4 linked regions of the Homo sapiens genome follow. The protein of the gene in region 1 interacts with the protein of each later gene in a biochemical or structural test. Each region holds a gene or a part of one and is shown in the gene's direction. Other genes may lie near its edges. The genes, in order: JUP, EPAS1, DSG2 and TCF7L2.

What was found.
Region 2: the proteins of JUP (region 1) and EPAS1 form a complex in vitro, tested with the Homo sapiens proteins (one study listed by BioGRID).
Region 3: the proteins of JUP (region 1) and DSG2 form a complex in vitro, tested with the Homo sapiens proteins (one study listed by BioGRID).
Region 4: the proteins of JUP (region 1) and TCF7L2 form a complex in vitro, tested with the Homo sapiens proteins (one study listed by BioGRID).

The regions. Positions count from the first base shown.
Region 1 is NC_000017.11:41,769,699-41,776,724, reverse strand, and holds part of JUP (junction plakoglobin), read left to right. Parts: intron 1-3,798; exon of another isoform or gene 3,799-4,135; coding exon of another isoform or gene 4,136-4,178; intron 4,179-4,468; exon of another isoform or gene 4,469-4,532; intron 4,533-4,862; coding exon of another isoform or gene 4,863-4,870; coding exon 4,871-5,078; intron 5,079-7,026. UniProt on the Homo sapiens protein: Common junctional plaque protein. The membrane-associated plaques are architectural elements in an important strategic position to influence the arrangement and function of both the cytoskeleton and the cells within the tissue.
Region 2 is NC_000002.12:46,356,400-46,363,425, forward strand, and holds part of EPAS1 (endothelial PAS domain-containing protein 1), read left to right. Parts: intron 1-324; coding exon 325-409; intron 410-4,238; coding exon 4,239-4,357; intron 4,358-4,485; coding exon 4,486-4,691; intron 4,692-7,026.
Region 3 is NC_000018.10:31,515,172-31,522,197, forward strand, and holds part of DSG2 (desmoglein-2 preproprotein), read left to right. Parts: intron 1-3,067; coding exon 3,068-3,103; intron 3,104-4,631; coding exon 4,632-4,766; intron 4,767-5,631; coding exon 5,632-5,793; intron 5,794-5,927; coding exon 5,928-6,072; intron 6,073-6,911; coding exon 6,912-7,026.
Region 4 is NC_000010.11:113,142,244-113,149,269, forward strand, and holds part of TCF7L2 (transcription factor 7-like 2), read left to right. Parts: intron 1-1,679; coding exon 1,680-1,782; intron 1,783-3,767; coding exon 3,768-3,854; intron 3,855-7,026. UniProt on the Homo sapiens protein: Participates in the Wnt signaling pathway and modulates MYC expression by binding to its promoter in a sequence-specific manner. Acts as a repressor in the absence of CTNNB1, and as activator in its presence.

The DNA.
Region 1 (7,026 bases):
CCCTCACCTTTTTGTTTTGAGACACGGTCTCGCTCTGTTGCCTAGGCTGGAGTGGCATGATCCTGGCTCACTGCAGCCTCAATCACCTGGGCTCAAGTGATGCTTCAGCTTCCAGAGTAGCTGGGACTGCAGGTGCATGCCACCATGCCCGGCTAATTTCTTTTTATTTTTTGTAGAGACAGGGTCTTACTATGTTGCCCAGGCTGGTTTCGAACTCCTGGGCTCAAACGACCCTCCCACCTCCGCCTTCCAAAATGCTGGGATTATAGGCACGAGCCACTGCGCCAGCTGGCTTCCGCCTCCTCTGCCATCTCTTTGTTCTTCTAGCATGAGAATGCATGCCTTTCCTGTGGACAGAGGGCTTCCAGAGTCACAGTGACAAAAGAAGTCACTTGATCATCTCCATTTTACAGATGAGAAAATGAGGCTTAAGGAAATTGAGCCCCTCTCCTCACTCAGAATCCTGTGCTCACCCTGTCGCTGTCTGAGCCTGGGGACCTGTGTCTGCACAGGGTGCTGGCCTCTAGCCTAAGGAACCTCTGGGGGACCCAGCCCTGCCCTGCTCCGCCCTGCTCCTCTGTTCCCAAATGCAATGCTTCTGAGTCTGCTTCCAGCACGGCCTCTGGGGTAACCCACTCCTGTCCTTATTTCCAGGTGTCTTGGCACTTGGTGCCCTGCAACCCAGCCTAGATGTGCCCATTGCTGACTGTCCTTGGCAGGTGCCGGCTGGGGAAGGAGCCTGGTGTAGCTCTGGTGGGGCTATTTTTAATGTCAGGGCTGGGCCACACTCTGCCAGGTCAGTCTTGGATTTAGGGTGCCCGGTGCCAGCCCTCTGGGTTGGCTGCGCAGAGGAGGAGGCAGGAAAGAAGGGTAGGGGTGCACCCAGTCTAGCCTTATTACTTGCTCACACTTACCTGGTGTGGGTCCCATGGGGAAGGGTCCTCTGCACCCCCTCTCCAGGGCCCGTCTTCCTTCTTCCTGTCCTTGGGCTGTCCCTACAGTCTCTGATCTGGCTTCTTCCTCCCGTGCTGCTAACAATAGAGCACGCTCTAAACAAAGGCCCCCCATTCAACTCAGAAACCCGCCCTGTCTCTGTCCCTGCCCGTCTCTGGCTGGGATGAGTGGGCAGGGCCTGCGTCTGTCTCTCTCGCTTCCACCCTGGCTCTGTCCAGGGGCATTGCAGGAGGTCTGACTCCAGGTCCAGGGTGGAGAGGGACAAGACTGAACTGGGTGTGGCCCCCTCCACCCTGGGAACTGTAAAACCAGCACTTTTGTTTCTTGTGAGAGAAGTTCCTTTGTTCTCCTGGGCAGTAGGTAAGGAGAAGGGTGGGGCTGGTTGACAGTCCTGCCTGAGGTCTGACTTCCAGCCTTCCTGTTGCAGGAATAGCTCCCGTGACCCCTTCCTCAGGAGGAGTTCTGGAGTGTGTCCTCTCTCTGAACTGGTTCCCAACTCTGACGTTGCCCACCCCCAGCCTTCTTCTGTCTGTTGTGGGAATCCTGTTTTTTTATTTCTAGAATCTTAGACATCAACATTCCTTTGAGATCCAGGGACACAAGGACACCCAGCAAGTTTGTGGCAGAGCTGGGACTAGAACCTGGGACTCTTTTTTTTTTTTTTTGAGACAGGGTCTTGCTCTGTTGTCAGCCAGGCTGAAGTGCAGTGGCGCAGTCTCGGCTCACTGCAACATGCACCTCCCTGGTTTAAGCAATTCTCCCGCCCCAGCCTCCCGAGTAGCTGGGATTACAGGTGCACACCACCATGCCTGGCTAATTTTTGTACTTTTTTAGTAGAGACAGGATTTCACCATGTTGACCAGGATGGTCTTGAACTCCTGACCTCGTGATCTGCCCGCCTTGGCCTCCCAAAGTGCTGGGATTACAGGTGTGAGCCACCGCACCCGAACCTGGGACACTTGATTTGCAGCCGAGTGCTCTGCTTCCATCTGCAAGCACCTTGGTCCCCTCCTCCCCTTGGCAAGAGGGCTCAGCTCCACCCAGGCTTGTCTAGTGGACTGGATGCTGTTCCTACCACAAGTGCTGCCATTTTCTCAGTGTGCAGGCACAGCTTCTTCACCTAGAAATTGGGAATAAAGCCAGGCACAGTGGCCCAAGCCTATAATCCCAGCACTTTGGGAGGCTGAGGTGGGCGGATCACCTGAGGTCAGGAGTTCAAGACCAGCCTGGCCAACATGGGGAAACCCGGTCTTTACTAAAAATACAAAAATTAGCCAGGCGTGGTGGTGCACACCTGTAGTCCCAGCTACTTCAGAGGTTGAGGCAGGAGAATCACTGGAACCCAGGAGGTGGAGGTTGCAGTGAGCCAAGATCATGCCACTGCACTCCAACTTGGGCGACAGAGAGAGATTCTGTCTCAAAAAAAAGAAAGAAAGAAAGAAATTGGAAATTATAAAACATCTGCCAGGGTTGCTTTGAGGGAAGAATGAGATTCACATAATAATAAAGGCCACTGGGCGTCCACCCCCCCACCCCCCCATGGCATCCTGTGGCTTCTGTCTCTCCCTGGGTAGCTGTCTAGCCCTCAGCAGTCTCCTGGCGGTTGACCTGGGCTGGTGGGGGTGGTGAGGGGCCTGCTGAGGAAGTTCCTCAGCTTGACTGTGGTGGTCCCTTTAGATGTGAGGCCGGCAAGGGGTGACCCTTGTTTGGAGTGAGGCCCGCTTCCCTCTCCCTTAGCTGAGAAGCCCCAGGGTTAGGCACTGTCTATGCAGGAGGGCCCTCTGGCTGGGATGCAGTGTGTTTGTTGACCAGAGCTGCAGATGTCCAGCAGTGTCCAGATGTCGTTCAGCCTTGAGCCCAGCAGAGCGGCATTCAGTGGGTTATTGCTACCGTGTTTACTTGTACACTTGCACCTTCCTTCTCTCCTGGGGGCAGCTTCTCTTCCAAACTCTCCTCTGCTCTCTCTTGGGACTTGCCCTTGGGGCAGGGAAATGGTTGGGGAAGGCGGCACAGCACGAGGAGCTCAGGATTTTAGTAGGGTTTTCCCATGTCTGCCTTCTCCGAGCACCCCGCCCCCCGCCCCCCACCATTGCCCCTGTTTCCTGCCAGTGGCCATTCCCCTCTGTTGCTGGGGAAGGGGTGTGGGGAAGGGGTGCGTGTGGAAAGGGGGCTGGTTGGGGGGGCTCCTTCTGAAATAGCTACACTTTCGAATGCCTGGGAAGCAGCTGTGCACATCTGGCGGCCCGAGCCTGTCGTCTGGGGTCTGCCGTCTGAGGTGGCGGGACTGCTTCTGTTTAATCAGCCTGAAACTCTGAGTCACTAGGGATTGCGGGAGGAGAGGAAGGAGGCAGCTGGGAGCTGGCCTGGCCCCTGCCTCTGCCTGTTCCGGGTGTGCTCACGGCTGCCTGCCATAAAAGGCTGGGAGACCTGCAGGACCATTCGTCATCCTCCTGGAGGGCCAGGGCGGCACTGGGGCAGTCACAGGGAAGACTTATCCTTGGTGATCTTTGTTCCTGGGGTGGGGCCAGGTTGCCCCAGCCACCCCACCCTCACCTGGTCCCCATCACAGTGAGACAACCCGGGTGCTGCCTGGCTTCATGGGTGGACCAGCCTGAGTTCTGCTTACTCACTGAGGCTGCGCCGGGATGTGCAAAGACTACAGACCTTGGTGCCCTCACACCTGGTCCCAGTCCCAGCTCTGCCATTTCTAACCTCAGTTTCTGCATCTGTACGCGGGGGACCAGTGCATGGGCTTTGAAACCCGCCCATGAGCATGACGGTGTCTGTGAAAGGTCTGGCTCGTAGTAGGCCCTCATGGGATCACGGCGTCCATTCTCCCCGCAGCCTCTGACCTCTGCAGGTCAGTTCCCAGGACAGTGGAGCCAAACACAGACCAAGCGGGAAGTTCACCTCCCTGGTACAAAGTTCGGCCCTGCTACTCATTAACCTTCAGGTGCGCCTAAACCTTTGCAGAGAGAGAGAGGGGTTCCTGACGGCAGTGACCACCCACAGGCCTGCCCCACCCCAGATCCCTAGCCTGGGCTCGAGGAGACCAGGAGGTGAGGAAGCACTTCTGGAGGAGAGGCAGTGCTGATGATAATGGCCGTGGCCTCTGAGCACCTGCTATGCACCAGGTCCTCGCAACCACCTCTGAGGGAGGTGGCGTGACCCCGCTTTACAGATGAGGACACTGAGGTTCTGTGGGGAGAGGAACTGCCCCAGTAGTGAGTAGCTGAGATTTGAATTGCTCTGTGGGACTCAAAGAGGCGTCTAGGGACTGGGAGGGCTGGGAGAGAGGGGGCCTTAGGGTCTGGACCTCAGGGCCATGTGTGATCCTGCCCAACCTGTAGGAAAGCCAGATCCTGGAGTCTCTGAGGGAGCCTGGGGCGCTCCAGAGAAACCTGTCAGACCGCTTCCCTGCCCCGCCCAGTTTCCTGCCCAATGGCTTGGGTGCCTCCTCCCTGCAGCCTTTCCCAGGGAGCCCCAGTAGTTGAGGGTGGGCCCAGGGGACCTCAGAAGCTGCTAGAAGCCCTGAGTGCCTTCTCTTGCCCCTGGGAGAGTTGGGTCAGGGCAGCAAGGTGCGTGAGCAGGGGCTTCTGGCGGCAGCTGGCCCTTGACTGTCCTGCCCCCTGGGGCTCATCCCCCTGGGAGGTCAGAGATGCAAGCCCAGGACATACACACAGCCGCACCCCTGGGGCTCACTGCTCCCAGGGTATCTCGTCGTGGGCAGCCCCTCCCTGGGCCTGGTGCCCTTCTGGGCAGTCCCCCCATCCCCAGCCTGCATCCTCATTGAAATCCCTGGGCCATGGTGATGATGTGGGAAGACAGGCGGGGCTTGGTGACGGGCTGAAGCTGGGGGCTGGGCCAGGTGACTTCCTGCTTCCTGACTTCCTCCTTTGTGCCCCCAGTAGCCACGATGGAGGTGATGAACCTGATGGAGCAGCCTATCAAGGTGACTGAGTGGCAGCAGACATACACCTACGACTCGGGTATCCACTCGGGCGCCAACACCTGCGTGCCCTCCGTCAGCAGCAAGGGCATCATGGAGGAGGATGAGGCCTGCGGGCGCCAGTACACGCTCAAGAAAACCACCACTTACACCCAGGGGGTGCCCCCCAGCCAAGGTCAGGACCCCTGGGGACTATTGCATGGGGCAGAAAACCTGCCTGGGTCCTGGAGAGAGGTCAGAGTGAAAGGAGGCAGATTGTAGGGGGTCTCTGGTCTGAGGGAGGAGGCACAGCTCATGCTAACTAGGGGCCCACCCAGTCTGAAGGAGGAGGTGCAGCTACTTCAGGGTGCTGCATCTGGGAGGGTCACAGAATCCTCTTCTGTGAACCATCAGTAGGGAGGGAAGGCATAGTCCCTGCCCTTAGGGTGCCTCCAGTCTGAAGGAAAAGCCATAGTCCTTGCCTTCTGTGAACATAAGAATCTGATGAAGACATTGGGTACGGTGGCTCATGCCTGTAATCCCAGCACTTTGGGAGGCTGAGGTGGGCAGATCACCTGAGGTCAGGAGTTTGAGACCAGCCTGGCCAACATGATGAAACCCCGTCTCTACTAAAAATACAAAAATTAGCCGGGTGTGGTGGCGCATGCACCTGTAGTCCCAGCTACTTGGGAGGCTGAGGCAGGAGAATTGCTTGAACCCAGGAGGCAGAGGTTGGAGTGAGCTGAGATTGCGCCACTGCACTCCAGCCTGGGCGACAGAGTGAGACTCCGTCTCAAAAAATAGTAAAAAAAAGAGTCTGATGAGGATGTATCACTATGGCTCTCAGGGAGCCCATGGATGGCAGGGAGGACGCAGCCCTTTGGCTGCAGGAGCCTCACGTTTGTGGGAGAGCCAGGGCCGTAGCCCCCAGGAACCCCCAGGGATTCCCCTTTGGGTAGAGGGGTGTAGGTGTCAAGCCTGAGGGCCCCTCGTTGGGGTTGGAGGGAGACCAGGCCTCTGCGGCTGACCTGCAGATAGGCCAAGGCTGTGGGATGAGTGACTGACTCAGCTCTGGGGCTTAGTCCGGGATGGGGATGCCCCGCCAGCCCAAGCCTCCCCTGCCCCTCTGGGAGAGAGGAATAGCCAGGCCCTAGAACTGTTGGCCACAGGTGCCTCCAGGGCCCTGAACATGCCAGGGGGTGGGCTGTGGGTGCTGGGAGTAGTGTGAGTAGACTGTGGCTGGTGGGGCTCTATGGAGCTCAGCCCTCGCATGCCAGTCTCCTCCCTGACAGCTGGTAGGGGTAGCAGGGGGCCTTTTGGCTGGCAGGGCCAGGCACTGTGTTGGTAGCAAAAAGTACAGCATCCAGGTGGGAAAGCCATGCAGCTGTCTCCTCCTTCTCGACTAATTAGAGGGTGGAACCTCTGCGTCCCTCTCCCTGGGGGCATCAGGACAGTTGCCAGGGTGTGGCTGCTTGGGCACCTACCTGTGGGACTCCCAGACCCACCCAGGGGATGGAAGCTAGAGAGGAACCTGACGTCTCAGCTGAGGACCCAGCTCCTGCTCTCTGAACCCACAGCCCTGACTTTCCCTCTGATCTGCTGTGAGATGTGATGTTGGTGGTTCTCTGGGCCTCTGTTTGCCTGCCTGTATAGTGGGAGGATTGCTACCGTTGGGGATGATGAGGGTGTAATTAGACTCCTGAGATTTCAGGGTTGAAAACAGACCTGATGGGTAAGGGAGGAGAATAGAGTAGGGGTTTGGGCCCCTGAGTCAGGCTGCCTTATAACCCCTCTGTGCCCAGTTTTCCCATCTGTAAAGTGGAGCCAGTGATAGTACTTACCTTGCAGGGTCGTTGTCAGGTTATGTGAGAAAATATAAGCAGGGCATTGAATTCACTGCCAGGCACATAATAAGTGTGCAAAAAAAAAAAAAAATTCCCTTGATGGACAGAACATGTGGGGCCTATTTTACAGAGATTACTGAGGTGATGGTGACTTCCCCAAGGTTCCTGGTGAGAGGTAGAATGGCCAGTCATGTGCTGGGGGTTTGGGCAGGGCAAGAGGTAGCCCAGAGGACCCAGGTGGGGCTGTCTGTGGCCTGCCCTGCTCCCCAGTGTCTGCCCAGCCCACTGCCTGCACTCAGT
Region 2 (7,026 bases), on another chromosome or scaffold:
CTGCAAATGCCCACGGTGACCCTCGCTGACCTCAGGCCACACGCCTCAGGCCACGCTCCCACCCCCAAGCATTGGGTTTGGCTTTGCTCATGTCCATCCTGGTAGACAGCTCTCTACTGACTCATTAACAGACCAAGTCTCTGTCATCATCAGTAGTCCCCGATTACATCTTTCTGTCTGTGGACCTGACACTGGACTGGGATTATGAGAAAACCCAATTCAGTCTCCTCCCTGCCTCCAAATCTGGAAGGTGGCTCAGCTTACTCTTGGAGTCTTTTACTTCACTGTTAGGAATAATGATGCCTAACCTTGTTTTTGAAACAGGTGGAGCTAACAGGACATAGTATCTTTGACTTCACTCATCCCTGCGACCATGAGGAGATTCGTGAGAACCTGAGTCTCAAAAATGGTATCCTTAATTGTGTTTACTTCCTTCTTGCCCCCACTGGGTGGGAATCTGCCTCCCCTTTGTCTACGGGTATAAGGGAGATAGCTCATGGCCCTTGTGATGCAGGAAAAATGGATGTCCTTAAAAAATTTAAGTATGTAGCCTGTGAGATGAGATTGGGGCATTGAGAGGATCCAGTACTCAGAAATATCTCCTGCTGGCCCTGCATGGTGCCTGGTGTCCCACTACTAGGGGACACCTTTGGGTTAGGACACTGTCTCTAGGAGGTTTCATCACCCAAGAGTCAAGCATCTCTGCCAAATGACACCACCCAAACCAATGAGGAACTAGTCTGTGCCAAAGTGCTCATAGTAACTACTGTAGTTATCTATTGCTGTCTAACAAACCACCTATAACATAGGGCTTTGATGATTATCTCCCAGGGTTCTGTGGGTTCAGTGGGTGGGTCTTGTACTCCATGTGATGTCAGCTGGGCTGCAGTCATCTGGGGGCCAGACTAGGCTGGGGTGATCAGGATAGCTCACACACGTCTGGGACCTTGTGGCAGGTGGCTGGAACCCTGGACTCAGTTGGCATGCTGGGACAACAGGACTGTTCTCTCACTCTATGGAGACTCAGAGACTCTCCCTCTCCATATGGTGTCTCTAGGGTAGCCAGACATCTTACGTGGCAGTTTAGGGCTCCCAGAAGCACTAAAGTGGAAGCTGCCAGGCCTTCTGAAGGCTTTGTCCCCAGATTGGCAGAGCATCACTTCTGCCCCATCTTGTTGGTTAGAGCATGTTACAGGCCAGCCCTGGCTCATTGTGGGAGGAAACTACACGAAGCCATGAGTGTCAAAAGGCATGGCTTGTTGGAGCTACTTTTGGAGAAGAGCTACCACAGGAAATGGTACCCTGATGAGACGCAGGTCAAGTAGGTTTTGATGGAGAAGAGGTTTAAAAAGATGTAGCATTCAGGACCTTACCCATGGGGATACCCAGCAGGTGCCAGTAGATGAGAGGACCCACACAGGCAGAAAGCACGTTGCAATGGTTGCAATGGCAGTGGAGCTTCCTGTCTTGTAACTGTGGCCATTCAACAAAGGCATGAATAGGGACATTGTTAAGAGGACTGAAGCTTTGGTCAGAATTGGGGCTTAATGACTGTCAAGGTCCCTTCCAAACCTGAGATTCTGTCACTGGTCTGGGGAGATTCTGTGCATGTCTAGATGTCCTCTTTAACAACCTCACCTGTCACTGCCATGGGGCTTGTGCTTGTCCAGCCTGAATAACAGAGGCAGTGAGGCTAAGCCTACAAGGTTTGGCTCTTATTACCACACACGCTGCAAAAACAGACACTTCATTGGCTCACCTCCACCCTATTACAGACTGAGTCTGCAGTCCACATTTGGGCCTGCAAAGTACAGAATCACAACCACCTCCTCTTCTACCACTGCCACAGCTCCCTCACCCAGCTCCTCTGCTCTCTCTTCTGCAGGCCTTAGACCACCTGGGTCCTAGGGTACACTGGCAGAGAGCACCCTGTAGGCTGCTCAGTGTCTTGTCTGGTTCTGTGGGGAAAGGGCTACCAGACTTTCTAAAGCTCTCTAAAAAGAGGATTCATGTTCTGCATGGGTAGGTGCTTGAAGCCTGAGAAAGCCTGAGAAAACCAAAGACTGATTTCTTCTGTACTCCAGAAACCCTTTGGCCTTTGGGTTCTTAGTGTCAGTTCAGCCACTGACCATAGTCTGAGTTTGAGTCTGTGACCAGAAGCAAGTACCCTACTTCTCTGTTCCTCAGAGTCTTTCTTTTCAAATTGATGGTATTGGACTAGGCAAAGGCGACAACCTTTCAGTTCTCAAGTGCCATGATTCACAGCCAAGTGACCTCTAATTATCTGAGTAGAACTTTAGATCTCTTGATCTGCATATTGAGGACTTGGGATCAGTCAAACTCAATGCAACAGCAAATCTTCACTGAAGGTGCCAGCCTATGGGTGGACTCGTGATCTAGACCTAAAGGGTTAGTGTGAGTTCCTAGAGGAAAAGAAAGCCATGAGGCAGATTGTGGAAGGCTTTGAAGGCCAGGTGGAGGGCCTTGAACTTTATTCCATAGACAATGGGGAGCTATTGAAGGTTTCTGTGCAGGGGTGGAGTGATCTGTGTGGAGCAGTGTTTAGAAAGAATGAACAAGGCCAGGCACGGTGGCTCACGCCTGTAATCCCAGGACTTTCGGAGGCCAAGGTGGGTGGATCACGAGATCAAGAGATCGAGACCATCCTGGCCAACATGGTGAAACCCCATCTCTACCAAAAATACAAAAATTAGCTGGGCGTGGTGGCGCGTGCCTGTAGTCCCAGCTACTTGGGAGGCTGAGGCAGGAGAATCACTTGAACCCAGGAGGCAGAGGTTGCAGTGAGCCAAGATCACGCCACTGCACTCCAGCCTGGCGACAGAGCAAGATTCTGTCTCAAAAAAAAAAAAAAAAAAAAAAAAGATCAAATGTCAGCATGGGGAGAATCCAGAGGTTAGCAAGTTAAGAGGCCTCAATAATACCCCAGCAACAGCCACAAATGAATCCCTCCAGCCCCCTTATACCCAACAACTGGTCTGGTCCTGGTGGTGGGGCCAGATCCCAAGATACAGGTATATCTCATTGTATGCTAACCCCACCTCTGAAAATTAAAATGGCAAGAATCATAATTTGGTATGGGAGAAATGGTTTTATAATCGTGATGAAGGAATGTTCTCTCTTTTTTAAAAAAATTCACTATTCAGTCTGTTACTGAGTGGGGTCCCCTAAGGATGTTGAAGTTTTGTTCAAGGGTGCCACAGTTCCTTTGACACATAACTCTTCAGGAATATGTCAGTCAAGATCCTCTGGAAGTTTAAGTGCAGGGGCTGGTGACTGTTCCTGGAGGAAGGAGTGTGACTATTCGAAACAAGGCTCTAGATTGTTCTATGATGCTGGGTAGGGGGCAGGATTATATCTTTGAAAGTAGGTACCAGAGATGGTGGTGTAGGCAGGATTTAGACACAGACAAGTGGGATTCAGCTGGCACTCTTCATTACTTTGTTTTACAAAAAGTGGAAAATGGTTCTGAATCGGGAGGCTGTTTGGCAACTATAAGGAAGTAAGCTATATTGCTGGTCTTGGTGATTTAATTTTTGCTGAGAGAGAGGATATGATCCAGGTTGAGTTAATCCATAAAGTGGACTTGCTCACCAAGTCCACTGTAAGGAGATTCGTACCAGAGTTCTCTCTAGAGCCTTGATACATATGTCACTTCAGGGACAAAGCTAATGGCATGGTATCCTGAACACAGCTATTGCAGTTTGCAAATGGGGTACAGGAGGGGTTAAATTCCTCCTGAGAGACAGGTTATAAAGGAAAGACGGGAGTGTCGGAGAGACATTTCTAACCTGTGAGGAAGGCTTACACCCTTGGAGTAACTGTGGCCTCACTCAGACTGTCCCTTGGAATTTCTGCGAGAAGACCTGGGCCTGCCCCAGGAAAGGGTGGCTGAGTTAGTGGCTGATAGGCAGTCGTTGTGTCGCTGCTCTGAAGGCACCACTGACCATGTTCCAGATGCAATGGGAAATCAAATGATGGAGCAGCTCCTCCCTTGTGGGAGTTTATGCTCCAGTTGAGGAGATAAGCTTGAGAGTGGGAACCATTAGTTCACAGGCCATGATGGAGCTCAGTGTTGATGGCAGACCACAGGTGCTAAGAGAGCAGATATTTGGAAAATATAAACAATAGGCTGCCAAGAAAAACTGCAGCTGGGCCCCTCTCATGAATATCCATATAAAACTGACTTCAGCTGGTTCTTCCCATCCTTCCACATCCAGGCTCTGGTTTTGGGAAAAAAAGCAAAGACATGTCCACAGAGCGGGACTTCTTCATGAGGATGAAGTGCACGGTCACCAACAGAGGCCGTACTGTCAACCTCAAGTCAGCCACCTGGAAGGTAGGGCAACATCAGGCCTGGGTTGGAGTCCCAGGTGTAGGGTAACGGCGGTGCAGGGGATGCCTAAGGCCCTACCCCCACCCCCAGCACTCTCGGCTCCATGTCTGACCCTTCCACGCCTGTCTCAGGTCTTGCACTGCACGGGCCAGGTGAAAGTCTACAACAACTGCCCTCCTCACAATAGTCTGTGTGGCTACAAGGAGCCCCTGCTGTCCTGCCTCATCATCATGTGTGAACCAATCCAGCACCCATCCCACATGGACATCCCCCTGGATAGCAAGACCTTCCTGAGCCGCCACAGCATGGACATGAAGTTCACCTACTGTGATGACAGGTAGGGGGCCATGGGTGTGTATGCTGTGGGCAGAGATGGGTCTTACCTGTGTGTGTGGGGAGTTGTGCCTGTATTAAAGGTGTGGAACTGAACATAGACGTGGTATTGCCGGGTGCATGTTCGTGGACCTGTGCCACTGTTTCATTGCATCAGTGCCCCTCAGAGGTTCCCGGTACTGTATTTGGTGGTCTCCCATTGACAGAGCCTCAGGGTCCATCTGCAGAGCTTTCCTGGTGTGCAACTCTTCTCATCATTGTGGTGTGAACATATTTCTCCATACGTGTATCAGGCTCCTGAGGAAATTCTCAAGGCAGTCTTCTGCCCCAGGAGAAAGAGTCTAGAGACTTCCATCTGTACTCCTGCTTCAGAGGCCAGTAAGGAGCATCAGCTTCTGCCCTGGAGACTGACCCTCTTCCATTACTGACTGAGCCTTTCCCTCCGCCTTGTTCCTTCCTGCATGCAACTCCATTCCGGCCAGTGTCCAGCCATTTTGAAGAAGATGAAGGTAGCTGAGCCAGATGCTAACCCCCCAGTGCCAGGCCCAGTGTCTCTTAGGAGACACAGTAGTGATTAAGAGCATGGGCTTCAGGACTAGATGGCTTAGGTTCAAATTTAGTAATAAATGTTCAGTGTTAGCTCTTATTATCACCTTTATTAGAGTTGTTGAAAGAGTGCCTAAGACTGCTTAGGCATGTCATGCCATCTCGGGTTCTTAGCTCATTTAGAAGATTGAAGCAGGTGGGGAAGAGACTGGGGTTGTCATAGGAGGGAGTATTTAGATACCCTACAGCTCCTAACTCCCCCACCAGCCCTGCCTCTGGGACTGTGGAGCCTGATGATGGGAGGTAGGAGGAGGAAGATGGGGAGAACAGATGCCCGGAGCAATGGCCGGCCCCAGGGAGGGAAGGAAATGCAGAAGACTGGGCCCAGGGTAGGCCTGGCTTGAGTAAGCGCCACTGGGGCTTGCTGAGCAGCACCCCCCGCATGCGCCCTTCCTGGCAGAGATCTCCCTGCCTGACCTCAGCTTTCTGCAGCATCTAGAGCCGCCATGTGTCCCAGGGTGACAGTTCCTGTGGCAGCTCTTTGCCACCCCCAACTCTTTGCCACTCTTCTCTCATCTTCTAGGGTTTCTCCTCAGGAAACCCTCAGATCTCAGTTTCCCCTTCTCCAAAATAGAGATAACACTTTCTAACCTGTTTCATGGGGTCACTGTAAAATGAGATAATGGCTGTGCAAGCACTTTGAGAAGTCCAGACACCACAACACATGTGAGGCTTCTTGTTATTGCTTATATCTTACTTCCTGTCCTTGGCCTCCTCCAAAGCAAAATCTTCCACTAAACTCAAGGAGCTGAAACCACTTCTGAAGGCAGTTAGTGGCTGGGGGGCAGGAAGAGGAAGAATCTGACCCCCAGATCAGCAAGAATCTGCCTTGTCTTCCTCAGCTAGCAGGAAACCATGGAACCCCAGGAAAAAAAGCTCCTGCTCAGCCTCCCCTAGGCCTACCCACTTTTCTCTTATCAGCTGGACATCCCAAGGGCATCTGGTTTCTTCATGGGAGGGACCCTCCTCTCCAGGATGGGGTTTCTCTCCTCTGATTCCAGACCGGCCTGGTGTTGGTTGGTCGCCCCTTCTTAGAGTTGGCCACCACTTGTGGCACAATTTCAGAACTTTTGTAAAAGTATCCTTGAGTCATTCCTGTCCTTCAGTTCTGACCACAGTAGGGCCAGGATTCACAGCCTTTGGAGCTAGTGGGTAGTTATATAAGTAGAAAGAAATGCTCTAACCTCATAGGGAGAAAATGTCATGCATGAAGCCTTCCGTCCTGGAACTTCGACACAGTCACCATTTATTGTAATTGTTAGTGGTGGTGGTGGTGGTGGTGGTAGTGGTGGTGGTGGTGGTGGTGGTGGTGGTGGTGGTGGTGGTGATAATGATGGTGGTTCAAGAAGAAGATTGCACTTTTAGTGACAGGCACTGCAGGAATCCATGTTATAGGTAAGGTTATTTATCAGATGCAGTCTTTGTATTCAGGTGAACATTCTGGGCAGAAGACACAGCTTTGTGTACCTCAGTAGTCTTGTGAGATAACATGGACAATCCCACTGCATAGCCCCTGTGTCACTGGCTTTGAGGTGAAGTGGCTCAAGCCGACGTAGCCATATAGCCTGGGAGCATATATAGTGCTGGGGATGATGAAAGTCAGATACGTGCTTCACCCTGGTGAATGAAGCACATCCGTAACATAACTCCATAAGCACTGGGAAAACCCTACTGTCCTAGAAAATAACTTGGCATCCCTACATAATAGAAAAGAGATTTTTTTTAAGCTTAAG
Region 3 (7,026 bases), on another chromosome or scaffold:
GGCCGACTGCAAACTCTGCCTCCCGGGTTCACGCCATTCTCCTGCCTCAGCCTCTCGAGTAGCTGGGACTACAGGCACCCACCACCACGGGCAGCTAATATTTTTTTGTATTTTTAGTAGAGACAGGGTTTTACCGTGTTAGCCAGGATGGTCTCGATCATCAGACCTCATGATCCGCCTGCCTCGGCCTCCCTAAGTGCTGGGATTACAGGTGTGAGCCACTGTACCCGGCCTAAATATACTAAATTTTAAGGCTGTTCCCTGATGATGTGGACACTGGGACCTCTCTGATCCAGGCACTGATCTTTCTCTTCAAAAATTCCCACCCAAGGAACATGCAGAGAGAAGTGATCTATCTCAGCATTGCTTTCCCTTGCTTTTCATACCATGCCACCTTTGAAAATACATAAATTTGGGGAGCACCACTTTGGTTAGAGACATCTCTGGCCATTGCTAGCTGGGCAAGTTAATAGTAGACAGAATGAAGAAGAGATCATAGATCTGATCATAAAATAGAGAATTAGCCATGATTGTTCATCTGCCCCAGAGAAGCCCACACTAGAAGCTGAACATCTGCTCTCCTTGAGTTTCTCTTTGGAATGGAGAGCCAAGAACATGAACTGACAATGGAAAGGAAAGAAAGAGGCTGAAAGATTCACTTGTGGAATGGACCCTACAGGAAGCTTTCAAATGAATGCAAAGGATGTGAAAGAGACTTTGAAATTTTAGGGAATGCCTTGTTTCCCATGATGTACCAACTAGGGCTTTGTGGATCCATGTGACCATGCAGATGGGAAAAGGCAAACAACTGAGAAAAGCTACACCAAAGACAGAGTCCAGTGAATTAATGCATAAATGGAAGGTGGAGTAGTGGGAGCAATACATATAGACAATAATTTCAATTTGGAATTATAAGTAAGAGAGGGATATAGAGCAATAGATTGTTAACAGAAACAAGAGAGGGATCTGGTTTTTTTTTTAAGATAAGGAAAACCTAAATATATTTGGTTTGCCAATCAGAAGGAAATAAATGTATTGATTAGCCAATGGAGAAGGAAGATAAAAGGTTAGTGGAAGGATTAAGGTTCTTGAAGATAAATGTGGGAGAACAAATAGAGTTGCAAATAAAGCACACAAACGATGGTTTGCCTTGGAAAGGAGTCAGGACACCTCTTCTGTGGGGAAAGAAGGGAAGGAGAGGATGACTGAAGATAGTCTCAGTCAAATAATACATGGGGTCATCTCATAAGAGTGAATAGGTACAGAGGTGTGACTAGAGTCATCTCCTAAAGTTTGGAATGCCTATTTTAGAAATGCAATAAGGGTAAGGCAATGACAAAGTGACGATATAATTTATAGTGTGAGCACACTTTTGAGGATGAAAGGGTTGTTAACAGATGGAATGCCTCACAGCAGGTGTCAACCTAGACTCTTCTGAGCAAATGCAGACATATGGTCACACTAGAAAGGAACCGCCACCCCATGGAAAGAGCAGCTATTTGAGAGCATGAATGTGTAAGGGATCTATTCAGCCACTGTGGCCTCCTCTAGCGATATTGCCAGTACATGGTCAGAACTAAAGAGAATAATAGGTTTCTAGAGTTGAGAGGAAAAGTGAGGCAGGAATAGCAGTCATGAAAATGAAGCCTCCCTGGTGGTCACTGACAACATCTTCAGAGTGGCAGGCAGCAGTCTGCTAGCTGCTCCGGTAGAACTGTGTGCAGCGGTGGAAATGTTTTCTGTCTGCCCTGTCCAAATGGGTAGCCCTTAGCACATGTGGCTGTGGAGCAACTGGATTATTCATTTCAAATAATTGCGGTTAAAATCCAAATAGCCACAAGTAGCTACCATATTAGAAAGTGCTGGTTCAGATTGAGCCAAGAGAAGAAGGAAGCCAGCAGGGAGATTAATGAACTATAAGGAAATCCTGCCATTTGCAGCAAAACAACATGGCTGGAAGTGGAGGTCATTATGTTAACTGAATAAGCCAGGCACAGAAATACAAATACAACATCTTCTCACTTATATGTGGGAGCTAAAAGTTTTGATCTCATGGGCATCGAGAATAGAATGATAGAATCCAGAAACTGGGAAAGGTAGTGGGGAGGTGGGGGAAGAAAAGAATTGATTAATGGGTACAAATATATGGTTTGATAGAAGAAATAAGACCACTAGTTAGAAATAAGTACACTAGTTCGATAGATCAGCAGGGTGACTATAGTTTACAATAACCTATTATACATATCAAAGCAGCTAGAAGAGAATTATTTAAATGTTTCTAGCATAATGAAAAGACAAGTATTTAAGGTAATTGACATCCCAAGTATACTAATTATCTTTACAAATTATATGAATGTATTAAATTATCACATGTATTCCAAAACTATGCACATCTTTAATGCATCAATTTTTAAAATTATTATTTTACAGTGCAAAATATTCAGAAAGCAAGATGGGAGTTTTTTGGGCAAATTTAAGAGTAAGCATAACTGTATTTAGAACAGTACTAGGTCATGATGAAGTCCCAAGTGTGACAGTGCCTATGAAGAACCAAAGAAAAGAGTTGGTGGGACTGAGGATGCTGAGGAACCGAGAAGTCAGAACATGGGCTGTCCGTGTGTGTGTGGTGTGTGTTTTTTTGTGTGTGTATAATGCACACACATCCATAGGGATGGTGGGAGTTAGCTGGGTGTGGGGTACATTACATACTGGTGGCCTCGAGGAAAAGTAAGCAGGTCCTGGAGAACACAAGATAAAAACCATAGGATGCGGAGTAAAGGATGAGAGAATGTCTAAGATTTCACAAGGCAGATTATTTTGTTTGTTTTTTAAGATACTGTTTTCTGGAGGAGTCAGTATGGATCCAGGAGAATATAGATTTCTCCTCGGGCACTTCCCATTAGGGAAGGCAATGGGAAAAATTAGTTTCCTCTTGACAAAGAATAGTAGTAGTGGTTAAACTTTTTTTATGTCTATAATATTCAATGCAGTAGGTTATTCATGAACAATGTTTTCACACTGAATTGAGCAGTAAATTGGCTAAATATCAAATAATTTTATTTTACAGATCTGCTTTAACGTTGGAAGTGGACTTCACTTACAGGTGAGGAAACAAAGGGATTATTTCTGCCTTCTGACTCAGGAGGGTTAATTCCATGGCAAACAGGTTGACTGGGCTTTACTAGATTGAAGACACATGTTGTATTAGACCCAGCCATTCCCATTCAAACAAGTGCAGAGGAGCTTATCCAGGGGTATTCAGTGCAGCAGTTTTTGACAATGTAAATATCCACCAATAGGTGAATGTTAAAACCATTTATGGTACATGAAAGAATGTCCATGACGAGGTGCTGAATGAAAATCGGGGCAAAATAAGATATATAGTGTAAGTCCATTTTTATAGCAAAAAGACCTTTATGCATCTGTGTATATATGTGCAACTGTATAGTTATGAAAAATCATAAAAGATATTAATCAAGCTGTTAATGAATACTTTGTGAGGTATAAATGAAAAAGTAATTTCAATTTTTTGTCATAGAAAATTTTGTTCAAGTAAAAAAAAAAATCAATGACCTAGTGATAACCAGAGTACATATTTTGAAGTAAAATACCTATTACATAGAGCAACAAAATGAGTAAAATGATAAACCAAACCTAGTATAAGGATTATTTCTGATCTTAAGATCCCAGGTCAGCTGTATTGAAATTTCCCTTGGATAAAATATATATTCACCTGTAAAACCCAACTGGAAATTTATAGAATGGTTTTCTGCCTAAGGTTCTGAAAATGAAATGGGAAATTTAATTCTTTACCCAATCCTGAAAACAATAAATTCATTAACTGGCAGTTTCCCTGGTTTTAGTCAAGTTTATATCAATAGATTACTAAGATTTAGCCTTAAAAAACATTTAGTAATTTATTTTTAAACCACAAACCACCACAGAAAAATGAAACTTCATTTTCAGTTAATAAGAAAAAACGTTTTTGACATGATCTGTTATTTTTTACTTTGCCAATTTGTAAGGCTACTAAATGATTCTTTAAACTTTTCAAACTCTCACTCTGGGAAATCATTTCTTACAGTTAAAAACAAAATTCTACTGTCTGGGCACAGTGGCTCACACTTGTAATCCCAGCACTTTGGGAGACTGAGGCGGGCGGATTGCTTGAGGCTTGAGTCTAGGAGTTCAAGGCCAGCTTAGGCAACATGGTGAAACCCCATAGCTACTAAAAATACAAAAATTAGCCAGATGTGGTGGTGCATGCCTGTAATCCCAGCTTCTTAGGAGGCTGAGGCAGGAAGATGGCTTGATCCGGGGAAGTCAAGGCTACAGTGAGCCAAGATCATGCCACTGCACTCCAGCCTGGGTGACAAAGCAAGACCCTGTCTCAAAAGAAAAAATAAACCAGAAAAAACCCTACACTTTTACTAGCTTGGAGACAATCTCTTGAGGCCCTATGCAGTTTGCTAGAATATATATATTCCCTTTTAGACAATGAAGCCTCATAGGAAATACGAAGCATACCTTAAAATTTGCACTATTTAAAAGTTTATTATGTTATAGGACAGCATACTAATGTTCTATATTTATGACACATAATAAATTTTGGCAATATTCTATTGTTATAGGTCTTAAGCACAAGAAATGAAAATAAGCTGCTTCCTAAACATCCTCATTTAGTGCGGCAAAAGCGCGCCTGGATCACCGCCCCCGTGGCTCTTCGGGAGGGAGAGGATCTGTCCAAGAAGAATCCAATTGCCAAGGTACCTCCTAAAGAGGAACATGAAATACATGCATATGACTAAAATGTGGTGTGAGAGGACTTTTATGTCTACTTTAAGATTTAAGGAAAATGTATGATGTGCTTACAGAATTTTTAAATATTCAAGATATATCTGAAAATTAGCAGAGCTTACTTTTTAGCATAAAGTATCAACTTTAAGATTCTCTTTCCCATTCCGGAAGATGCAGCATCATTGGCAAAAATATAGATAACTTTGAGTTTTGATTTAACTAAGAGTAAAGGGATTTGGCACTGGTAACACAAAATGTTCAGTGCTCAAAAGAGGATGTCATAAAATGTCATTTTCAAGATGAACTGGTGTCTATTACTAGGTAGGGGGACCATCTTCATCTGCCTGAGACAGTCGTGGTTTATGCCTGCTCTCCTGGCTTAATAATTAATATCTGTGTTTTCACTCTCAAGGGGTCCAATTTTTTTGATAAATTATGTGATAGTGTTGCTACTCTATATTTCAAAGTTGGCATGCACAAACATAAACCCTTCATTTTTTTCCCCCCAAAGCTTTTCTTCATAAGTTCTACCCATTTTGGTAATTGATGCTATAATTCTCTCCAGTTTTTCAAGCCAAAAATGTACCACACACTATCAGTTCTATTCCAAAAATATATTCCAAATCTGCTGCTTCTCTTCAACTCCACTGCCATTCCCCTAGTCCAAGTCATGTCATCTCTGGCCTGTATTACCAAAGAACTTCAGAAGGAAATTGTCCATAAAAATATTTACCTGTAAATTATAGAGAATCACTTCTTAGGCTTTTGGCTAAGATCAAATCTAGTAAATTACAGAGAGTTCAACCTGAAACATTCCTGTTATTTTTATGTTAGATACATTCTGATCTTGCAGAAGAAAGAGGACTCAAAATTACTTACAAATACACTGGAAAAGGGATTACAGAGCCACCTTTTGGTATATTTGTCTTTAACAAAGATACTGGAGAACTGAATGTTACCAGCATTCTTGATCGAGAAGAAACACCATTTTTTCTGGTAAGAAGAATAATTTTAGATTTATTAGTTTGTAGTTTTTCTGTCATAATAAGTGTCATTTGTTTTATTTTTTCATAGTATGGTAATTTAGTTTTCTTAGCTTAAATCTAATCTTATTTATGTCATGATTTCAGCTAACAGGTTACGCTTTGGATGCAAGAGGAAACAATGTAGAGAAACCCTTAGAGCTACGCATTAAGGTTCTTGATATCAATGACAACGAACCAGTGTTCACACAGGATGTCTTTGTTGGGTCTGTTGAAGAGTTGAGTGCAGCACGTAAGAGTCTTTTTTTTTTTTTTTAATAAATAAATACCTAAGATTACTTTATCCCCACTGTAAATAAACACTAAATTTCATATCTTAATGAAAGTTGAGTATTACCTACAGAACAAATGATAAGAAAGCAGTTCAGAACTGCTTTCCTTATAGGTTTAAAGGACTTTACATGCCATTGCTTTTACCCTCAGAACAGATAGGGTAGATTAATGTGATGGATAAGGTCTCTGTAGCAACTACTCAACTCTGCTATCTGCAGGAAAGCACCATAGACAATATGTAAACAAATGAGCCTAGCTGTGGTCCAATAAAACTTCATTTACAAAAACAGGTGGCTGGTTAGCTTTGGCCCTACAGCTTTGGCTATAGTTTGCTGACCTGTAAGTTGTATTATTTTTACTGTAATATTTATTCACAACATTGTTCAACACAGTGCTCTTCATGAGGACCCGAATGAGAGATTTCTTTTTGACCATGATGTAAGGAATAGTTACGCTTCTCCTGATTTGTTTGTATCTTAATAGATATCAGGATCATGTACCTGCTCATGTTACTTTCTTTGTATTGGCTACTAATACTATTATAAACAAATCTGTGCCCTTATACAGCAATTTTTCAGGACTCTACCCTCAGCCTTGCCTTCATCTTGTTTTTACTATTGTTATATCCCATTCACGCTTATGTCCTCATCCAGTTAAATGTTATATTGTGGTCAACTGTATGTGATTTTGATAAGCACCTGAAATCTTTTTTGGAACAAGCTAAAATTATAAATAAAATAACAGGTAAATATGCTTAAAGTTGAATTTCATCTTAGACATCTTTATTTCTAATGCCAGATACTCTTGTGATGAAAATCAATGCAACAGATGCAGATGAGCCCAATACCCTGAATTCGAAAATTTCCTATAGAATCGTATCTCTGGAGCCTGCTTATCCTCCAGTGTTCTACCT
Region 4 (7,026 bases), on another chromosome or scaffold:
CCTCCCAAAGTGCTGGGATTACAGGCATGAGCCACCACACCCAGCCCAGCATCCCCTTTTTATCCCAGTTGTTCATTGACTGCTTTTTTCCCAAAGGGGAGAGGGAGGGAAGGTGGGGTTACTTGTAGCTCTCCTCCAACAAGATCTAAATCAGGCAGGCAGCCCCAGCAGCCTGGTGGGGTGGTCTTGGGAGAACAGGTAAGGTTAGTGTGTGTCTTTCAGGCTACCCAGTGTGTTGGTAGGATTTCCCCTTCCTAGCTCAGTAATTGGAAGGATGGGTTTAAAGTGGTGATTGCACATCACTTTGTTAGAGGGGATTGGTAGTGTTGGGGTAGGTAGGCTGCCTGGTTAGGCGGCCTTCACTGCCCCTGAACGAAGCCACACATGAGCTGGGTTTTACTGGTCTCTGAGCCCCTTTGTGCTGGTGCAGGACTGAGCCTGGCGCTTGGATGCCTGGTGGCCTCCTCCAGCCGGCCCCAGGCTCCACCAGTGAATGGCAGCGTCAACGTCTCATTTAAATAATGGTAGTACAGGGAATAGCTTTTAAATGGTTATCGTAAAACATATGATTAACGTCTGTGGACTGTTTACTTTTCCTCTGCGAACATTCTTTCAAGTGTGCAAATGGCTCGATGTAGGGTCCAAGCCCAGCTAATCTGTTTGGTTTTTGTAATAGAGAGAAAGCAATGTCTGCATGAAAATGTCACCCAGGGAGACTTAATTTACAGATTAAAAGCTTCCTGAATGAATTTTTTAAAAAATGAAGTCGTTTTCGTCCACGAACATGCAGCCCGTTCCCTCCATTACTCTGTTTTAATTCTGTGGTATTGTGCCTTTTGCCTCCCACTTCAATGGCATACATCAATTCCTCTCTGTCAGAGTGGACTACAGGATGTGCTCCTGTGGAACTGGCAGATGTGCGGTGGCACGTACTTGCAGAATCCGCTCATGTGTGCCTTGTGAAGCTCTTAGCCCCTGCGACGCACGCGGTGCCCATTCAGCAGGTGGGCTTAATCCCCACAGACGACTCTGTCCTCTAGCGGATGAAGTTCCAGAATGGAGTACACAAGCCTCCAACACCTCCTTGTCTGTTCAGCTCTGACTCTGCCTTAGATAAGATGCCAGATGGCATTTGATCAGTTTCTCCAGCTCATCCAAATAGAGGCAGAGACATTTTAGAGGAGTCACCATTTTTGAAAAAAGGCAAGGGTAGTAACTTTTCAAATGCCACAGCTCAAAAAGTGTGTTAGAAATCAGAGGAGTAGCTCTTGTGCAGGTAAGGCATGAAACTCCGCAGGGTGAAGGGCCAGAGTTGTAAGAGCAACAGGGATTACCATTGCTTCATTCTCCACCAGGTGCTGAGCCTTTTTGATGTTGTTTCTTTTAAACTTGAAACAATCACACCAGTCACATGAGGCACAAATACCCAAGATGGCATATCTTGAGTCTACTCAGTATACCAGTCCATTTAGAAGGAGATAAACTAATTTTTCAAACTGAGGCTGAGGGAAAATGAGATGAAACCTACCAACAACTCAGGATTTATAATCATGAATGAACCTTGTGCTAGGATTCCAGAAGAGATGCGTCTCTTCCTCCTTTCCCTGTTCCCATCCCCTAATGGATTGCTCTTTCCTTCTCTCCCTCCTTTGTACCTAAAATGCTGCTTCTTCCCTCAGGAATCCCACGGCCTCCGCACCCTCCAGATATATCCCCGTATTACCCACTATCGCCTGGCACCGTAGGACAAATCCCCCATCCGCTAGGATGGTTAGTACCACAGTAAGGAGTTCCATTTTTTAATTTCCTTTTTGTTTCTTACATGGGCATGTTTATTATTTATTCTGTGTGTGTGTCTGTGTGTGTGTGTGTGTGTGTGTGTGTGTGTGTGTGTATGTGTGTGTGTTAGAAGCCAGGGTTGGGGAGGGGGCTGCGGGAGGGCACAGAAAAGGTGTTGCTGAGGTGTCCTGTGGGAATACAGGCAAATCCACAGCCATTCAGGTGGCTTATGTTACTGGCACTTAGCATTCCGCGACCATGGTCCCCAGAGGCTCTGTGGACAGAGGTGCCCTGCAGTTCCTTTGGGAATTGCAGAAGACTACTGGAACTTCCACCCAATGAAGCTGGTCATGACCCTTCTGCTGTTGGCTGCCCAAACTGCAGTCATGTCATTGGGTTGAGGCTGTCGAGTCCTCCATTTTAGGTGTTACATATTTTGGGGCACAGAAGCAGGAACAAGAACGGCCTTGTTTTGAAATCCAGGGTTGGGATTAGGGCATGTTCTTGTATGATTCCAGGACCCCCCACCTCATCCTGAACATTACTCCCAAGGTTGACAACAACAGTGGAAAGTTTTGTCTGTTGAGAAGCTCCATGGGACTGAATCAGCATCTCTCTGAGAGTCTTTGCACGTTGAATGTTTTACCTAACTGTGAACGGTGGGAATGGGGCATTTGGAACCGTCACTGCAGCATGTGGGGCCTTCGTAAGCATCAATCCTAGCTCCTGGCAGTGCCCAGATTATTTGACTAACTTTTGCAACTTAAAAAAACTGTGTTTTAAATTCAGAGTAGAAAGGCCTTTGATGCATTAGCATACTGTGGCAGGTTGTGTGTATGTATATTTTTGCATGAGCATGTGTGTAATATGTGTTTCGTGATTGTTTCTGTGGATGTATTTCTCCTTACCAGTGATCTGTACTCTGAACAACACAGGACAATACATTGAATGCTAAAAGGAATAAATCCTGGTAAAACTCAGGTTTGAGTCTTAGGGAAGATGGCCTTTCAAAGCCTTAAGGAAGATAAAATTTTGGAGTGGCTTACCCCACAATTCTACCCGTATTTCTCTAGTTAGATAGATTCTATGCTGTTTTTTTTTTTTTTAATAAAAAACAGATTGCATTATGTAGTAGCTGTACCAAATACCAACCCTGGGTATAGTTTCTGTTTCTCTGTCTCTTCTTATTTTTATTGGGACGGTAGACATGAACATGAGCTTGTGACCCATTTCTTCTAAATAGATGGGGCCAACCCTCGAATAGTTCTCAGTGATCATTTGCCCCATTCGGCTGATGGGGAGATATTTGAAGGCTAGATAAAAAGGAATAGCCAACTCAGACAACCCTCTGTCAGAAAAAGTTGTGTGTCTTTCATGAGGATGCTATTTTGCATGTTGCTGTATTTTTTAATTATTGTAATGAGGTGTGATTGTCTATTGGTTACCCACAATTCTTCTTGGGGACTCTCCCCCCGGTAACTCTTGTCAACACTTGTTAATTTGACAAAAGGCTACAAATTAAGCTCTGTTAATTTAATGTTTTCTCACCGAGATCTAAATACCGAAAGAGGCCCAAAGCGCAACTGAAGTCCTTTGATTCACTGTACTTTATTTTGGTATAAATTTACATTCATTATTGTTTTCCTTTGGATGTGTAGCCCTCAATTAGTGTGATGGCTCCATTAAAGCAAGCGAGACTTCGCCTTTAATTATTACAACAAAACACCTAGTTTCAGCTTGGGGAGAGGGTCTCTATTGACATAAGCAGAGGTTATAAAATTTAATTAGCCATTCCTATCAGATTTATGGCATTCAAATTGTTCTGTGTTTCTTCCCTTTGATCCTTCCTGTACAATCCCCAAGATTTTTGTTCTGATCAAATGAGAATAAAGCTTACTGTGCAGAGAGAACTTTTCCCTTTTCTTCTTTTTCTTGTCCCCACCCCCACCCTTGTTTCAAGTCTCTTACTTTGTACCCCTTCTTTGTAGGCAAGGTCAACCAGTGTACCCAATCACGACAGGAGGATTCAGACACCCCTACCCCACAGCTCTGACCGTCAATGCTTCCATGTCCAGGTGAGTTCCAAGAACCGGGGCCTTCATCCAAGGCCATGTGTGACTTCTCAAGAAGTTCTCTAGATGGCCACCAAGCCACCCAGGGACCACAGCTACATGTAGTTCTATTAGTGTAAAGCCAATGTGGCATTAGGCTGTACTCCCAGAAAATCCTGAAAAATTGCCCTGAAATTCCAAGGTAAATGATGTCTTTCTGGGTAAAATTTTTGAGTCACTCAGTTGAACAATGTATTTTAATGAATTAAGAAGGTAAGGGAGAAACAGGACAGAAGCTTTTAAAAATGCCATTTCTCTGTTGTCCTGTCCTCAGCAAGAAAGGTAGCGGTGAAGGTAGTTTTATTATTATACCAAGAAGAGTTCGAAAAAAGATTACTGGTGTTCTCAAAGCTCAGACTCTGATTGCAAGTCAACAAGAAAGCATCCGCCTCCTCCCCTCGAAGGTAGCACTGTCCAATAGAAATATAGTGTGAGCCACAGAGGGAATTTTAAATTTCGTAGTAGCCGTGTTTTTAAAAAAGTTTTTGTTTTTTTTTTTTTAAAAAAAAGATAAAGTTATTTTTAATGACATGTTTTTATTCAATGCAATATAGCCAAAATATTATCATTTTAACATGCTATTCCTGGACAACAACTATTAATAAGATGTTATGTTCTTTTTTGTGCTGAGCTTTGGTACAAAATCTGATGTGTATCTTATACGCACAGCACTTCTCAGTTTAGACTGGCCACATTTCAAATATTCAATAGCCACACGTGGCTGGTGCATATCATAGTGGTCTGTGCAGCTCTAAGTCTTTGAAAGTTAAAAAAAAACATGTGTGTGTGTGCTGTACATTCATATATATTTATATTTCAGCGTAGAAACATATTTACAAGATACATTCCTATCCCCATGTTCTTCTTTTCCTCCCTCTGATTAATTCTGGCTAATTTTTCAGTGACTGCTAGTTTATTTACAAACTGGTTGGCAGCAGTATGTTTTAGTCGCTAATTGTTTCTAATGATAGTTTTATTTTCTGTTCATCTGATTTTCAGTCAAGTTAATTAAATCGGTGGAGGTTTAGACTTTGCTGATGGTCTGAAATCACCAACCCATTCTGATGATGGCACATAATGAAATTAGCATGCGTTACATGGCAGGGGTGCTGTCCCCAGCTTCTTTCCCCAGTCCCTGTGGCCAACATGGGAAGCCAAGACCAGAGAAGGGCCTGGAAAGACAGGTCAAGATGCTGCTTTTCCTACTTACAAAACAGTAACTTTAGCAGTGATAGAGAGTTACATTCATTAAGAAAAACAAACCGTGGCATATCTAGCATCGGTAACTATGCCGTGGATATCATAGTTGAAGAGATCCATTTTCTACCTGCGATATATCATCAAAATTTCAAAATCCATGCCAGTATTAGTTAGGTAGGAAAACGCTCGTGTGTTCTCTGGCCTAGAGAGAAGAGGAGGCGTAACACTTATTAAATAGTGTCATCACAGCCTCGCAAAGCATGGGAATGAGTAGGGGGTCTCCCAGGTGGAGAGCACCCAGGGACCACGGCTACATGTCATTCTATTAGTGTAGCAGCTTATACTCCACAGCTCATCTTCCCACCTTCCCAGCATTTGTATATTACACCTGGTTATTTTTCATGTTTGTTTATTTGGTGCGTTCTGGAGGTTAACAGTGGTAAAGTAATTGTAGGATAGGGATTGGGGTTAAGCTGATCGATTGAATTATCATTAGGAGGTTAGTCGATGAATTATAGGTGGGCATGGGGGTGGAGGAAAGGCAGGGAACGTCAGGAAGAAAGGTTAGGGCCTCAAGGTGCGGGGAGAGGCGGCCGACTCCCCAGGTAGGCCAAATGAAAGATAGCTAGTTAAAAAGCATATACAGCAAATTAAATACATTATTGTGATAATGGGGCGACAGAAGTATAGGTCTATTATACTTATGGCAGTTATAGCAAATGTAGGCAGCTTGCCCTGTTCCAGAACACCCTTTGATATTCATTCTATTCAGCAGTGGGGCCAGGACTTCTCAGAATTAAGTGATGGGTCATTATACTTTAAACACCATGGAGAAGCCTAGATTGGCAATTAAACAGCTCTTGCTGACACTCACTTGTGCCACCCTGTGACCCCCTTTAGATTGAGATGTTGGAGCTCCGGGCCCTCAGCCTGCTAAATTGGTGCAAGGCTCTTCTCCTGACGAGAGCCGGCTCTGAAATCTGCCGGCTTCAAAGGGAGCGAGATCATGTATAAACCATAATGTGGGTGCACCGTGGCTCACAAAAAATAAGGCAGGAAGAGATGAAATGTTACAAGTGCAAGGGGGAAAATGAGAGAATAATGACAAACCTAATGCAACTCAAAGCAGGATTGTTGCACAGGAAAATGCATCCTACTGCTTGTGCATAAAATCAAGGCCGGCAGATGACATCCGGTTAACAGAAACGTGTCAACAGTGAAGTAAAGTGAGAGTGAGTAAGAGAGAAGCCCCTGAGACAGCCAGAAACAAAAATTAGTTGTTCTTAACAAGTTAAGGTTCATCATTATATTCTGGCTTGGAGCCATGAAAGCAGACGGGGGTATATAATGAGCTGCTTAGAATTTTTAGGGTGTTTATTGCATTTCATGAAATAGTAGTCTGCAGAAAGGAATTTCTTAAGCGAAGGTATGTGTATACAGCCCACATCCATGTTCACACATGGTCTCTTTCTTTGCTGAACATTTTTCAGATATGGGAATATACGCGTAGGTATGGGAACTTAGAAATGTGCCTTCTTCATGGCTGCATTAGAAGTTTGTCTGCACCCCAAAATGTACTCAGATTGTGGTGCCTTCCCGTGGTATTTGGTGTATGTACACACACGTACACACACACACTCACACATGCAGTGTTTTTCTCTCTCCCCCTCCCTCTCCCTCTCACGTCTGTACACATATTCTCATTCTGCAGGAAGGGAACATATGTATTTGAGGAATGTCAGGCCTTCAAAATTCACAGTAAAAGCTGCCACCCACCACTTCACCCAAGGGCTTCCAAGAACACATGTTCTTAACTTCTGTTTCCTCTGAGGCCTTCGAGCAGTGGGAAGGAACAGGGTGTCACTTGGAGCCCAAGTGTCTCCCAAGGGGTTTTGCTTTTTTTGTTTTTCACATTATTTTGAGAGGAAGGGGATGA